Regions from separate parts of the Homo sapiens genome. Here all the other regions are linked to region 2. Evidence: fine-mapped expression QTL. A gene starts in region 2. Each other region holds a variant in brackets. All regions are shown on one strand. Distances are between the middles of the regions. Region 1 overlaps LPAR3 (lysophosphatidic acid receptor 3). Region 2 holds the start of LPAR3 (lysophosphatidic acid receptor 3). Region 3 has its middle 31 kb from the start of LPAR3.

Region 1 (2,761 bases), 27 kb before region 2:
CTCCCTGACCTCATCTTCTCCTACTCCCTCTGCTCGATCCATGCAGCCATAGTGGCTTCCTGGCTGGTCAGGGCTCCTGTGCTTACCGCTTCTCCCACCTGGAACACCCTTCCCCAGACACCAGTATGGTTCACTCCCTGACTGCCTTCACACCTCTGCTCAAAAGTCATCTTCCAGGCATCCCTCACAACACTTTTTTAAAGTGCAAACGATACCTGCTTAGCTTAGCACTCTCCAGCTCCCTTCCCTGCTTTATTTTTCCTTCCTTCCCTGATTGATTTTTCCACAGGAGACTCATCTTATTTCACTTAATTTGTTTACCCCCATTAGAATACTTATTTTATCTTTCCTTATTAGAGTGTAAGCTCCAGGTGGGTGGCGATTTATGTCCGTTCTTGTTCACTGCTGCATTCTTACTGCCTAGTAAGTGCCTGGTACACCACAGATGCTCCGTAAAGATTTGCTGAATGAATGGGAATGATGGCTTGCTTGGGTCCTCTTACCTACCTAAGACAGTCATCACCGTCTTCATTAGCTTCATGGGTGTCCTCCGGCGGCTGATGGACCCACTTGTATGCGGAGACAAGACGTTGGTTTTCCTCTTGACGTACACGTAGATCCGCAGGTACACCACAACCATGATGAGGAAGGCCATGAGGTTGGACACTGTCCAGAAAACAAGGTAACTCCTGCTGTAAATGGGGGCCAGGGAAGAGCAGGCAGAGATGTTGCAGAGGCAATTCCAGCCCAGTGTGGGGACCGCCCCCATAAAAATGGCGATGGCCCAGACAAGCAAAATGAGCAGTGTCACCCTCTTTTTGGTCAGGTTGCTATGGACCCGCATCCTCATGATTGACATGTGCCTCTCCACGGCGATAACCAGCAAGTTGGTGAGGGAAGCAGTCAAGCTACTGTCCAGAAGCCCCTGACGGAGAAACCAGCGGTTGACAGTCAAAGTTTTTGAAACTGGGCCTGTGTTAAACATCAGGAATACATAGGCAATTCCAGCGAAGAAATCGGCAGCAGCTAAATTAGCCAACAGGTAGTAGAAGGGGAAATGAAATTTTCTGTTTTTGATCACTGCCGCGATGACCAGAGAATTAGAAAAAAAAATAAACAGGCAGAAAAACGTCCCAACACACAAAACAATCACAAGCTTTGTTCCTGTCCAGTCATCGACAGTATCAGTGTTGCTCCTATTATAAAAAAAGTCCATGTGCTTGTCATAGTGACACTCATTCATTGTGGAGAAGTGAACATCCTAGAAAGAAATTTAAAGAAGAAACAAATATCATTTGTAAAATCAGTCACTAAGCCATCAATTGCTGTTTCTAAGCCCGTTCTGGCTAACTCCCAT[C/G]AAGGGAGTTGAAGACCTGAAGTGTCAGGTCTCAGTGCAAATGTCCTTTGGTCCAGGACATAGCCCCTGACCTCCTACCACAGCATTTAGCGCACATTTTAATTGTTTGTTTCCCAGGCTAGGCCGCTCAGGTTAGGAGGGTGTATCTCTATTTTGTTCACCATTACAACCCTAGGATTCAGTTGCTCTGTCTGCCTCATGGTGGGTAATTATTGGTAGGTTGGCTGGCTGGCTGAATGAATGAATGAATTCTCATGGAGGCATCAACAGGGCAAATGTGCTGAGCCCTGCAATATCCACTCTGCACTGGTAACACAATGACAACACATTATGTTAATGCCTCCTCCTGGCTCCCAGTTCATTAGTTATTTATGGATATGTTCATTAATCAACGGCAGGTTGGTAATTTCAGGTACATTCTTCCCAAGATAATAGGAGTTGAATTACCATTCACATAACCAAACAGATACCCCAAGAGACCAGTTTTCTATGACTTCTGATTCCACTCCTGATCCTCCTTTTGCCATCTTTTGGTTTCAACAAACAACTCTGATATTCACATATTAGGTATATGATGCAGGGATGGAGACTTTGGTCCCAATATCTCCCTTCCTTACCTTTTGTTCACTTCTTCCTTATAGTCTCCTAACCCAAACTGTACCAATGTGAACCTGCTCACTGGATTTTCCAGCATTCCTCAACACGGCAGGTGGAGGAGGATCGGGCTTCCACAGGCAAGACTGAGATTTGGAATTGGGGCAGATCTCCAACTCAATGTGGATGTGAGAACATATCTATTAAGTGAGGGCATGTTCTTCAGACACTTGTCTGAAAGAAGACCCCAAACTGGGATATCAGGCAGACAGGGAAGACACTAATCCTCTCAGTAAAAGATCTCTTGAATCCCAAAAGCGAGGGATCTTGGCCAAGGAAGGGCTGGGCAGAAGCCCCACGGATGCCCATCTGTCTACACGTGGTGGGGAAAACCAAGTGTTCTGCCTCACAGTGGTCTGGCCACAGCCATGAACGGTCCTACGGAAGAAGATTGGGCTTAGGGTCAGGGTTCTAGCTTCTTGGAAGAATGACCATCTGCTCCCTCACTGAGAATGAGGCTGCAGCTTATTCCCTGGAGAACCAGAGATTCAGTCGGCAGAGGGACTGAGCAGCCCTCTGGGAGCTGTGACAGTAAAAGCTCAGTAAAAGCCCCCAGATTTTAAAGTTCCTGAAAATTCTGAAATCTAATACCACAACCAGAATCAAGAAGACCAGATAACTATTAAGTAGTACAAAATAGAAATGTATCTCAGTCTTTTTTTTAATTTATATTTTAATGGTATAATGATACTTTTACATGAATTAGATATTGCTTTTTGGCCATAGCAAATGGGAGGTAAATATCATTTT
Region 2 (2,761 bases):
AGCCCTTTATTTCTAAACGGCATCTCAAGACCAGGTAATGCTACTTTCGGAGGAAAAGGAGGAAGAAAAGCGTTGTAATGACAATAACAAATTACGGGGGAAACATTTCGTGGAAATTACTCAGTTTAAAAAACTGACCTAGCCGGGCGCAGTGGCTCACACCTGTAATCCCAGCACTTTGGGATGCTGAGGAGGGTGGATCACGAGGTCAAGCGTTCGAGATCAGCCTGGCCAACACAGTGGAACCCCGTCTCTACTAAAAATACAAAAAATTAGCCTAGCGTGGTGGTGGGCGCCTGCAATCCCAGCTACTAGGGAGGCTGAGGCAGGAGAATCGCTCGAACCTGGGAGGCGGAGGTTGCAGTGAGCCGAGATCGCGCCACTGCACTCCAGCCCGGATGATAGTGCGAGACTGTGTCTCAAAAATAAATAAATAAATAAATAAATAAATAAATAAATAAATAAATAAAAACTAACCTACAAATGCTTTTCAGGGCCATTTTAATGATTACCTTAATAAGACTAAATTGTTTCCAATATTCACAGTCACTCCTCAAATTACATGCGTGCGGAATTTCTAAGCAATTTTGTGTAGCTGCAACTTGTTGAGGGAAAGCAATAAAGTAACTCTGCTACAGAACAAAAGCACTTTTGTCTCGTGGTGGTGAGGGGGCATACCCTGAACAAACAACCCCGACAGTGTTGCTAGTTACTAGTTCCCGAATCTCTAGAAGCCTGCACATGGTTCAAGCTGTTCCCCAGCGGACACAGCACAGTACCAGATGTAACTGGAGGCTGAAAAATGTTATATCCCTAGGCTTCACGAGAGAACCCCAGTTTCCTAATCACCATCGATGGCAATGAGACTGAGTTTGGAAAGAACCACGTGTGCAAAGGCAGACGCAACCCGTGCGGCGCTCTCCTGGCCTCTGCGCCCAGCCCGCCAGCCCTCAGCAGCGGACGCAACGCCGATTTTGCATCTAGATTGCTTTTTGCTCCTAGCGGGGAAAAAGGTGGGAAAAGAGCAAGTTGTGCCATACACCCGCCGGGAGAGTCTTGTCCCGGGGTTTGGAGTGGGTCTGGAGCCCAGGCTTGCACGCCAGGCAACCCCGAAAAGCCGCAGGCTAGAGCCCTGCAGGCGCCGCTGCGCCCCGGCCTCCCCACGACGCACGCCCTGGTGACTGCGGCTCGGGGTACCCTCCCTGCGCCCGGACCCTCACTCACCGCTCACGTTCACCCGCGCCGCCGAGCCCGGGAGCGGGGGCCCCTGCGGCTGCCGCATGCCCTCGGGGTCGAGCGCGACGGGGCGACCGGGCGCCGGGCTCCAGCCGGGCGCGGAGAAGCAGCGGAGGACGCGGCGGGCGGGCGGAGCGCCTCCTCTCCAGCGACCCCTGCGACGCGTCCAGAGCCAAAGGAAAGTTTGGCGGTGCGAGGGAGGGACCTAGGGACAGCGGCCCCTCCCTGCCCCGCCCCGCCCCGCCGGGTGCGTTCGACGTTCCCACTGGAGAGCGTCCCCAACCTGCAAGGCCGCGAGCTGCGCTCAAAGGGGCCCGTGCGAGCCGCGGGAGGGCAGCGCTCTTGCAGACGCGTTCCTGCCTGGGATCGTCCCCAGGTGGGTGGTCGGCCGGCCCCGAGAGGGAAAAGCGCCCACTAAAGGACCGCTAGTACCCACAAGCCTCACGGAGCCATACCTCGGAGCTCCGTATTAGAACGCAGTCCCTCTGCCCCTCTGTCCTCAGAGATTTGTTTGAAGTGGCTGCGGGAAGTGCAGCCCACACCCACCACCCCCGTGGGAGGCAGGCTCTACTCCAAGCCCGACCTAACGCTGGAAACCTCAACCCCAAAGCTACCCGAGGGTGCGGACAGCCCCCAGAGGCAACCAACAATATTTAAGGTTCTTGTAAGAGGTTTCTTGGCCTCCTGGGGCAAATAGTCCTGGATACTTTGTTTTTCAAAGCTGAAATATAAAACCTCCACTGACCCACCTTTAGTAAAGAAGAAAGATGCAAAGTAAAACAAATGTCATGAAGGCATTGTTCTCTCTGAATTCTGCAAAGCAATAACGAAGTCACAGAAATGTTCAAAGTTGTGCTTTCCTGGTGACCTTACAAAAAGGAAATACTGTGAGGTGAAGTCCTTCCCACTCAGACTTCAGGCCCTTAGGAAGCAATGAGAGTTGTGTGCCCAGATGTCTTCCTGTGACCCTTTGCCATCCATCCATCCGTTCATTCATTCATCTTGCATTCACCATTAATACTGCGCCCTTCTGTGTGCCAGCTAGGAACCTCATCCTTGCAAACAACCTGTTAGATAATCTGTCCCCTACCATCAAAGAGATTCTGTTTTCTCTGCAGAGGATGTTTTAATAAGGTTACGTCCCTTACTCCGTGGGTCTTATCCTATAGACCATAATAGCCTAATGTGCCTCAAACCTCCCCGGGGCTACAGCTAAGTTTTCATCAGCATGTGAAAATTATTGTTTCATCTAAGTGTTCAGAAAATTATTGCGGTGTCTTGCAGTTGAACTGTGTAGAGAGAAGTACAACTTGCGAAGCTAGGGCTAAAGAAAGATCATGTGTTTACTTTTACAAGCAGAAGCTTTGCATATGATAAAAAAGCTCGGTGGCAAACATGGTGAAAACCCGTCTCTACTAAAAATACAAAAAGCCGGGCGTGGTGGCACGCACCTGTAATCCCAGCTACTCTGGAGGCTGAGGCAGGAGAATCGTTTGAACCTGGGAGGCGGAGGTTGCAGTGAGCC
Region 3 (2,761 bases), 31 kb after region 2:
TGCAAGCTCCGCCTCCTGGGTTCACACCATTCTCCTGCTTCAGCCTCCCGAGTAGCTGGGACTACAGGTGCCCACCACCACGCCCGGCTAATTTTTTTGTATTTTTAGTAGAGACGGGGTTTCACTGTGTTAGCCAGGATAGTCTCGATCTCCTGACCTTGTGATCCATGCGCCTCGGCCTCCCAAAGTGCTGGGATTACAGGCGTGAGCCACCACACCCGGCCAGTGCTGGGCCATTTTTACATGAAGGTCCACAGGGACAAGAGGGCGACTGGCTACCCCTAGATCAAAAGGCTGGGCTATTGTGCTTTTCATAAACCCATGATTCCAAGCGTGGTCTTCCACTGGATCAGTGTACCCTTTTTACAATTGTTGGAGTGTAGGTCCTCAGCAGGAGTGGGGGACAGTGCCTCGAATCGCACGAAGAGCTTTTCCTAACTACCCTCTCTCACTCTTTTGCATTCACCACTTTGAGTCAGCAATGGGTTGAGAAGGAAGTGGGCCTGAATTTTATACATTCTGACAAGTTTGGTTAAGGGGGTAGTCCTAGTAGAGGACTGAGGGTCTCACCCAGGGTGAAGGACTGAGGCTTTGTGACAGCTTGTGCACCTCCTGGACCTTTTCTCTTCCATCAGGACTGACAGCTGTGCCCCAGCCATTTAGGCTGCTTCTCCTTGCTGCTCCTCTATGGCTAGGTGTGAGCTTCTTAGGGCTGAACTGATCATTGCCTCCAGGACAGGACTGGATGGGGGACTTTTGCACACTTAAAGTTCTAACTAGAACAAAGTCCACCAGAAGTGTGTGGTGAGTGCATTATAAAATAAAAATCTTCCTGGCTGGCCCAGATGAACAGATTTGTACATTTGTAGACCATGTTAGTAAGACATGTTTTTTGAAGAGCTAATAGTCATTGAGCACTTAGGAGTCACGCCCTATTCTATGCACTTTACGTTTGACTCATTCAATCCTCATAATCCCATTTTATGGATGAGGAAATCTATGCATGGCATGACCTGTCCAAGGAGACTCAGGTAGCAGTAGGAAGAGGACAGCTGAGGCAGACAGGTTGCAGAAGCAAAGTCGTGTCTGCATTATTCCATGGTCCCAT[G/A]GAAACTATTGCAAACATGTTAGAGAATCAAAGGGAAATAACAGCTCAGGAATGAATTCAATACCAGGCTCTGCATAAATTATGTGACTTAAGTGCCAGTCTTGGTTGAGGTTTATCATCACTTAGAGGAAGAAAGTAACTTGTTCAGGGCCTTAAAGTTAGGTTAAGCTGGAATTTTAACTCAAGTCTGTCTAGATGGCTCTTATGCCCACACTCTCTCCTACCAGCTCAAGTGAAAAAGCTTTAAGATGTTGTATATGGTTTTGACTGTGTCACCACAAGCCAAGGAGTTAAATTCAAGGGTTGGAGATCCCAGAATGAAACCAGCAGGCAGAAAGAATGTGTCTCCTAACTTTCACAGGGAACCCTCTAAGTGGAGGCCTATGATAAGAGAGAAAATGATTTATCCCAGATGCATCTATTAGCAGAATTATGAGACAACATTGTTCAATAAAATCCAAATAACAATACAGTTGATAAAGTGACAATTGTTTAACATTATTAAAAAGGGAGAAAACAATGTTTCTATAGATGTGAGCTAACCCTGAAAAACATTTTTCTTTCTAAAACTGTTTTGTCCAGCTGGAGGGAAAATAAATAAAAGAAAACATGAAAGCCAATAGAAGAATAATATGAGCATGAAAACCCATCATTAATCTTCTATTCAAATGGCAGTCACAGCTGCAGAACAAATGAAAGCTTTTTTTTTTTTTTTTTTTTGAGATGGAGTCTCACTTTGTCACCCAGACTAGAGTGCAGTGGCCGGATCTTGGCTCGCTGCAACCTCCGCCTCCCGGATTCAAGCGATTCTCCTGCCTCAGCCTCCTGAGTATCTGGGACTACAGGCGCCTGCCACCACACCCAGCTAATTTTTGTATTTTTAGTAGATACAGGGTTTCACCATGTTAATAGCAATTCTTGGGTTGGGCGTGGTGGCTCACGCCTATAATCCCAACACTTTGGCAGGCCAAGGCGGGCGTACACGAGGTCAGGAGATCAAGACCATCCTGGCCAATATGGTGAAACCCTATCTCTACTAAAAAAATACAAAAAATTAGCCAGGTGTGGCGGTGCATGTCTGTAGTCCCAGCTACTCAGGAGGCTGAGGCAGGGGACTCGCTTGAACCTGGGGGGCAAAGGATGCAGTGAGCCAAGATCATGACACTGCACTCTAGCCTGGCAACAGGGCAAGACTCTGTTTAAAAAAAAAAAAAAAGAGAGAAAGAAAAAAAATAGCAGTTCTTTTCAGAGACAAAACTAAGTATATGACAATATACTCAGAAGTTAACAAGTGGTCCAATTACGTATCTGATTCTTGGGTCAGGCAAATGACCCCAGAACCACCAGTTTAATGGTGTCTTAGTTTAAAAATCAAACATAACTCTTCACATATCTTGTAAAAAAGAAAGTTTAAAATAATTTTAGCAAAGTACTCTGTGTGTAGACATGAGTCATCTACTCTCTTATATACTTTAATGGTATTAACTGCATGATTTTCCCTGCCTATAGTTGGTGCAGGCATATGAAGATGGGGTCAGAGCAAGGAGGGGGAAGGTGACATGAGAAGGAAAATTGGGTAGGGGCTTGTGGGGAGGGCGACTGAGGCCAAGGAGAAAGAGGAAGAGCCCTGGAAGGAGGGTCCTGCTTAATTCA

Evidence for each region.
Region 1: its variant is fine-mapped to the expression of LPAR3 in whole blood (INTERVAL, PIP 0.97).
Region 3: its variant is fine-mapped to the expression of LPAR3 in whole blood (TOPMed, PIP 0.95).

The regions. Positions count from the first base shown.
Region 1 is chr1:84,864,878-84,867,638 of GRCh38, forward strand. LPAR3 (lysophosphatidic acid receptor 3) reads right to left here. Exons shown (of 3, transcript NM_012152.3): 2 at 508-1,261. The coding sequence starts at 1,243. Among named protein-coding and RNA genes, the nearest start is that of LPAR3, 27 kb to the right of the region's middle. The variant C/G (reference allele first, on the strand shown) is at 1,358.
Region 2 is chr1:84,891,792-84,894,552 of GRCh38, forward strand. LPAR3 (lysophosphatidic acid receptor 3) reads right to left here and starts at 1,415. Exons shown (of 3, transcript NM_012152.3): 1 at 1,225-1,415.
Region 3 is chr1:84,922,551-84,925,311 of GRCh38, forward strand. No RefSeq gene overlaps it. Among named protein-coding and RNA genes, the nearest start is that of LPAR3, 31 kb to the left of the region's middle. The variant G/A (reference allele first, on the strand shown) is at 1,109.